2 linked regions of the Homo sapiens genome follow. The protein of the gene in region 1 interacts with the protein of each later gene in a pairwise test. Each region holds a gene or a part of one and is shown on either strand. Other genes may lie near its edges.

Evidence for each region.
Region 2: the proteins of TLK1 (region 1) and ZSCAN22 interact in binary tests that used the Homo sapiens proteins (3 or more experiments, as listed by UniProt).

What each region holds. Positions count from the first base shown.
Region 1 is NC_000002.12:171,154,212-171,157,964, reverse strand, and holds part of TLK1 (serine/threonine-protein kinase tousled-like 1), read left to right. Parts: intron 1-3,753. UniProt on the Homo sapiens protein: Rapidly and transiently inhibited by phosphorylation following the generation of DNA double-stranded breaks during S-phase. This is cell cycle checkpoint and ATM-pathway dependent and appears to regulate processes involved in chromatin assembly.
Region 2 is NC_000019.10:58,336,841-58,340,593, forward strand, and holds part of ZSCAN22 (zinc finger and SCAN domain-containing protein 22), read left to right. Parts: intron 1-1,413; coding exon 1,414-2,486; 3' UTR 2,487-3,753. UniProt on the Homo sapiens protein: May be involved in transcriptional regulation.

The DNA of each region.
Region 1 (3,753 bases):
ACTGCTAGTAAGAACCGTTAATATTAATGGAACTTGAATGTATTGTATGTATCACGGTGAAAACTAACTTTGTTTCTTGAAAAATTGAGTCAGTTTAACATATAGTAATAGAATAATTGAAACTTAAAAGAGATACACATGTATGTGAACTTACATAAATATTCTATGTGATGAACTCCTTTTAGGCAGACTTAACTTTGAAAATGGGTTATTTTTAAAAATATGCCATAAGCATCTGTAAAAGTTACTTATTTTGAAGTTTTGACATTTGAAACCACAAACCTAAGATTATGATCTGATTATTTTTGATGCTGTATGTTGTAGTTTTGTTTCTTTTTACCTTATTACCATTATCATATTCACATAGTTTTATCACAAATAAAATACAGCTCTATAAGATTTGGGAATCTATTAGAATTTAGGAAATTATGTGATAAATATAGTATAGATTTCTTTCCCTCGGGTCCCAAAGCTTTTCGCTTGTCAGTCTTGTGGTTCTGTTAGAGGAGTTCAGCGATGTAGCTCTAGATTTTCTGTTGAATCTTTTAAACCTATAATCTCCATCCCATTTTGTCTTCTATAATCCTGTGATTAAGGGAGTGACGAGTTAAAAAGGTTTTCAAGTAAAGGCCAGTTTTGCTTTGTTGAAGTCTAGGAACCTAGTGTCATATTGGCTAGATAAGTAGTTGGGTTTTTTTGCATATCAGTACATGGGTACTTTTGAATGGGTTATTGCTGAGAATCAGATGATTGATTATATAGAACACTTGCATTTTCTTTCCTGCTCCAACCTGCCAATTATAAATAATTTGCTTTACTTTTTTGTAAATAGTGAAAGCTTGGTCAAAAAGATTGTATGGGCCAGGAGTGGTGGCTCAAGCCTGTAATCCCAGCACTTTGGGAGGCCTAGGCAGGTGGATTGCTTGAGCTCAGGAGTTCAAGACCAGCCTGGACAACATGGTGAAACCCTGTCTCTACAAAAAATAGAAAAATTAGCTGGGCATGGTTCAGGAGGCTGAGTTGGGAGGATTGCTTGAGCCTGGGAGGTGGAGGCTGCGGTAAGCCTAGATAGCGTCATTGCATTCCAGCCTGGGTGACAGAGTGAGATACTTTCTCAAAAAAAAGATGGCATGATAGTTCGATTAAACTGTAAACTTCCTCTGTTTCCATATTTAAAGACTGCATTCCTTAGAAGAATTAAAGTAATTGACTTCAGATGATTTAGTAATGAGATGTTAAAAACGAAGGTGTACCAGATGGCCCTGTAGGCCTTTAATTTTTTGAAATCACTAGCTGGAGGAGGACAGGGTTATGTGTTTAAGGATTCTAGCTCATGAATAGATATGTGACAGATGTCTCCTTTACAATGGCACATTTACATATTAGAGGAGAGAGATAAAAGAGAGAAACCAGAACGGAGGTTTGAAAATCTTATGAGAAATAGACTATGCTTTAGCCTTTTGGCCTCAGGGCCTCTTTACTCTCTTAACAATTATTGAGGACCCCAAGAGATTTAGGTTTATGTAGATTATATCTACTAATATTTGCTCTTTTAGAAATTAAATGACAATTTCAAATATATTTATTAATTTAAACTGTGTTGTAAATAGAATTTTTTATGAAGAATAAATATGTCCTAAAACCAAAGAAACTAGACCAGTGGCATTGTTTTATATTTTTGCAAATCACCTTGATTTCTGGCTTACTTGGAGAAGACAGCTGGATTTTTTGTCTGCCTTCAGTCTGTTATGATGTTTTGGTTGAGATATGTGAAGAGAATCCAGCTTCATGTAGATATATGGTTGGAAAAGGAAAGAGTGAGTATTCTTCTTTGGTATTACATCAAAATTCAACAAGTGGCAGTTTTTTGTTTTTTGTTTTTTAAGTTACTGACAATGTGAAAGCATATTGTATTCCAAAAATGTCTCTAGGACCTACAGGAAGTCTATGGAAGATACATTTAAAGAAGAGACTAACGGTTGGGAGACGTGATAGCTGTCTCCAGGTATTTAAGAAACTTGGATTTCAGTAAATAGGATTTAAAAACCTGTTAATTTTAATAAATAGGAGGGAGAATAGATCCATTCTCCTGCTTTAGAAGGCAGACCAACGGGTGAAAATTAGGAAGACATTGAGGTCAGTCTAATTTTTTACCAGAATGTAAGAACTGTATGACAACTAGACTTGGAACAGTGGAACAGTGGAGCAACAATGGAACTCGCAACAGCTAACAACAATGGAAAGAAGTAGTTAGTTTTGAGAATTTAAAGTGGACTACAGGGACATATTTTTTGGGGAGGTGGAGATAAATTCTGTAGATTCTTACGATGAGTGCTATTGGATTAGTGACTTAAGGCTTCATCCAATTTAAAAATGTAAACATTCTGTGATTTTTTAAAAATCCCTAAATATAGTTAAACTATACTTATATATATTCATTAACGTTTTTGAATGTTCTTGCAAGTCAGTAGTATGAAACTACTGTTGTTGTTGACTTTATTACTATTTTGCATTTTTATTGTGCTTTTCCTCTGAGGATTTTTCTGTCTTTTCTTGTGTCAGCAAGATCAGTCTTCATGAAATCTTGCTAAATTCCCTGTGAAATATAATAAGCTTAAGACATTTTAGAGAACCAAATGCTGTTTATGATACAGTTTAGTAGAGTTGTAATATATTTCAGCACAGAATTTTAGAATACTATGGGGGCTGATTTTCAATTTTGTAAGAGAAATTATGAGCATAGTTTATATAGTCTTTTATTTGTAATTGTTTACGTGATTTCAGAAGTAATATGCTTAAGTTATTCTAATGTTTTTAAAGCTAGAGAGTCTGAAAAGAGGGAAGAAGAAAGAAAAGTGTTTAAATTGATCTCTTTTGAATTTAAAATGCATATTAAGTATAACTAGAACATAAAATGAAGAATTTAAATTCTCATCTTATTCCTAGAATTATACCTATAATATGTATCATTACTTATAACAATTCATATTTTAATTTTGCATGGCACATAATCTCTTCTGTGAGTTGGATTTTTAGGTGGTGGGAATTTAAGCATAAATTCTCATAACTTTCTTGGGGTCAATTTAATATTAATAAGTGTAGTAAGTAATAATACCCAGCTTGAGACCTCATGTACTTGTTGCATTTGGATTTAAAGCTCATTTCCTATAGAAGAGCTGTAGAAATCAGTCATGTAGTTTCATAAACTCCTTCATGCTTGTTAATAATTTTCAAGAATCTTAAAATAAATTACAGGAATATTGTTATGAAGTAGTAGAAGCAGTATGGTATAGGGGAGAAAGTGATTGTAGTTGGGATCTGAGGATAGTCTTTACTTTGCTATTAACTAGCTGTGTGACCTTGGGCAAGTTGCTTATCTCTGCTTCAGTTCCATAAACTAAGAATTACAGAGCTGAACCGGATCTTGGAAGCAATCTAGTACAAACCTCTCATTTTACAGATGAGGAAGCAGATAATTTGCACAGGCTTTCACTGTAAGACAGTTGGGCCCAAAATTCAGTTTTCTGACTCTCAGGTTGGTTTTTTTTTTCCATTATACTTTACAGCCTCTTTTCATCTGTAAAATGAGAGCATTGGATTAGAGGCTCTCAAAGGTCTCTTCCAGCTCAAAAATATTGTCATTCCTGTGACATTAGTCGTAATATAATTTATTAGGGGAAAGTTTGTAGCTTTTATTTATTGGTGAAAGAAATGTTTCTTGAAGAGGCAGTATAACCTTTGCAAGGTTATATT
Region 2 (3,753 bases), on another chromosome or scaffold:
GCTTACAGATGGGGAGACTGAGTCCCAGATGAGGGCAGGACTGATTAAGGTGGTAGACCTGGGGTTTGAGTCCAGTTTCTGCACTGCTGAGCCCCACTGTGGACTTGAGCAGTGGGTATTCCACCTGTCTCTGCCTCCTCCCTGGAATCCATCCAGTAGATGTGCCAGATTATGTGTCCTTTGCACCCATGCAGGGCAGGTCAGTGCGAGCATTCCTCTACCTCATGCACACTCTGATCTCCAAGAGCACCTCCGCCACACTCTGCCTTCATAGTACTTTACAATGTAGGGGCTTGAGAGGCCAGATGGGTACCTCATGTACTCACCCCCAGCAGCCATATTCTACCTGGGGTTCTACTTGCAGAAATTTTCACCATCGTGGGCTTCTGGATGGATTCCCTCATTCAGCCAGAATTCACTGAGCACCTGTGGACACATCCAGGCCTAGAGGCAAGGTGTTGAGTGTGAGGGACAGAACCGCAACCTCACAGAGATCAGAGCCTGCAGGGGACACATCCAGGCCTAGACGCAAGGCGTTGAGTGTGAGGGACAGAACTCCAACCCCACAGAGATCAGAGCCTGCAGGGGACACATCCAGGCCTAGACGCAAGGTGTCGAGTGTGAGGGACAGAACTCCAACCCCACAGAGATCAGAGCCTGCAGGGGACACATCCAGGCCTAGACGCAAGGTGTCGAGTGTGAGGGACAGAACTCCAACCCCACAGAGATCAGAGCCTGCAGGGGACACATCCAGGCCTAGACGCAAGGTGTCGAGTGTGAGGGACAGAACTCCAACCCCACAGAGATCAGAGCCTGCAGGGGACACATCCAGGCCTAGACGCAAGGTGTCGAGTGTGAGGGACAGAACTCCAACCCCACAGAGATCAGAGCCTGCAGGGGACACATCCAGGCCTAGACGCAAGGTGTCGAGTGTGAGGGACAGAACTCCAACCCCACAGAGATCAGAGCCTGCAGGGGACACATCCAGGCCTAGACGCAAGGTGTTGAGTGTGAGGGACAGAACTGCAACCCCACAGAGATCAGAGCCTGCAGGGGTGCATGTGCTCAGGGTCCTGACAAGGACAGACCCTCCCTCTCTCTCTGTCTCCAGATCAGTTCCACATCAGGGTTTCTCCTCTTGACTCTTGAGCCAAAATTGGGAGCCTTGAAAGATGGCGAGTTTGGTGGGAGGAGGAGAAATCAGAACCCATGGTGTAGTTTTGGATGGTGTGGGAGGACAGCCCTGCACCCTTTGTCATCCAAGACACCAAATGAGAAACTTCCCCTTGGAACTGGGGCCAGATGTTAGGAACGGGCCACATCTCCCCTTACAAAGTGTGACCGGGGCCCTCGGCAGAGTAGGGGAGGCTTGGTGTGGTAGGAGGAGTGACAGTGTGGTTCGGACTGTTTCAGGATGGGATCCAGGAGCCGAGCCCACAGAGGCAAGCTGCAAGCAGAGTGACCTGGGAGAGTCAGAGCCATCAAATGTCACTGAGACCCTCATGGGAGGTGTTTCCCTTGGACCCGCCTTTGTCAAGGCATGTGAACCTGAGGGCAGCTCAGAGAGGTCTGGACTATCAGGGGAGATCTGGACAAAGTCTGTCACCCAACAGATCCACTTCAAGAAAACTTCAGGGCCTTACAAGGATGTCCCCACAGACCAGCGTGGCCGTGAATCTGGTGCCTCGAGGAACAGTTCTAGTGCGTGGCCAAACCTCACCTCCCAAGAGAAGCCTCCTTCAGAAGACAAATTTGATCTGGTGGATGCTTATGGGACAGAGCCTCCATACACCTACTCAGGGAAGAGGTCCTCCAAGTGTCGCGAGTGTAGGAAGATGTTCCAGAGTGCTTCGGCGCTCGAGGCACACCAGAAGACCCATTCTCGGAAGACCCCATATGCCTGCAGCGAGTGTGGGAAAGCCTTCAGCCGGAGCACTCACCTCGCCCAGCACCAGGTTGTCCACACAGGGGCGAAGCCCCATGAGTGTAAGGAATGTGGGAAGGCCTTCAGCCGAGTCACCCACCTGACTCAGCACCAAAGGATTCATACTGGAGAGAAACCCTACAAATGTGGGGAATGTGGTAAAACCTTCAGCCGCAGCACTCACCTCACCCAGCACCAGCGGGTGCACACGGGGGAGCGGCCCTACGAGTGTGACGCGTGTGGGAAAGCCTTCAGCCAGAGCACGCACCTGACTCAACACCAGCGCATCCACACCGGGGAGAAGCCCTACAAGTGTGACGCGTGTGGCCGAGCCTTCAGCGACTGCTCAGCCCTGATCCGACATCTGAGAATCCACTCTGGAGAGAAGCCATATCAGTGTAAGGTTTGTCCGAAGGCCTTTGCACAGAGCTCCTCCCTCATTGAGCACCAGAGGATCCACACGGGAGAGAAGCCTTATAAGTGCAGCGACTGTGGGAAGGCCTTCAGTCGTAGCTCAGCCCTGATGGTTCACTTGCGGATCCACATCACGGTGCTGCAATGACCGGAAGTCGCCCCTGGGGGCGTAGCACAGCGTCTTCTCGGAGGCTCGAGGTCTAAGAGAAACGCTGAGTTCCTGAAGAGCCACAGACAGGGTGGGTGATTGATGAGTTGTCAAAATGATAGGTGCCTGAGGGCAGACTCGGGCTGTCTAGGAACCACTCTGCATTTGAGGAACCCTGATGAGCACAAGGTGATTCAGGCCAGCTGGAGAAGCTTCCAGAAGGGCCCTGCACTGCTACCCTCTATTTCCCACTCAGGGCTGTCCCAGAGAGAAGGCAGCCGAACTGAGGATTTAGACTGGTTCTGAGGGCCAGGGCAAATGAAGGCGCATGTCTCTCAGAACTCAGCGTCCCAAGACGCTCTGGGCGGGCCAACTGTAGCTTGTTCTCATGTGGTTCTTCTTGCCTGCTTTTCTGCTGCTTAGCCCAGAACGGACACCTGCCATGCCCACCTCTGTGCCTTGGCACCTACTATTTCCACTCCAGACTATTTTGTGCCTAACTGCAAGGCTGACTTTTGAGACTGCCTCTTCCACGATGCCTTTTCTACACTCTGCCTCTCTCATGGTTTCCTGTCGTAATCAGTGGTGCTGCTTGACACCTGCCCAGCATGTTCCTGTCTCTCCTTTTCCTTCCACATCCCACCAGTCACCAGCGCTATTGTTTTAACCTAAAGCTTATCTGTAATTCACCTCCTTTTCCACCACTGCTACCTTATGTGAGCCCTCATTGCCTCTTGCCTGGATTATAGCCGGGGTCTCCTTCCTGACCACTTCCTGCCTTTATTCTCTGCCCCTGTATCACTCTCCAGGGGACTCTTGATATTACTTAGATCTGACTGTGTCACTCCAAGGTGGAAAGCTCTCCAACCCATCTTCTACAGCACAGCTTCCTGAACAGGGTATAAGTATGCTGAGATGCAGGCTGCTCTGGGCCCCGAGCAACCTCTCCAGTTATCCTCATATGCATGTATGAATACTGTCATTTTTCTGTGCGTGCAGTGAAAATGGCCTCATCTCATACCATGGCTCCACCTTCCATACACCAGCCACACGGAACTACTGTGGTCCCTGAAGGAGCCATACATTTTCCCACTTATGTGCCTTTGTACCTGTGCCTGGAACCCTCCTCTTCTTTTTCTTTTTCTTTTCTTTTCTTTTTTTTTTTTTGAGATGGAGTCTCGCTCTGTCGCCCAGGCTGGAGTGCAGTGGCGCGATCTCGGCTCACTGCAAGCTCTGCCTCCCGGGTTCATGCCATTCTCCTGCCTCA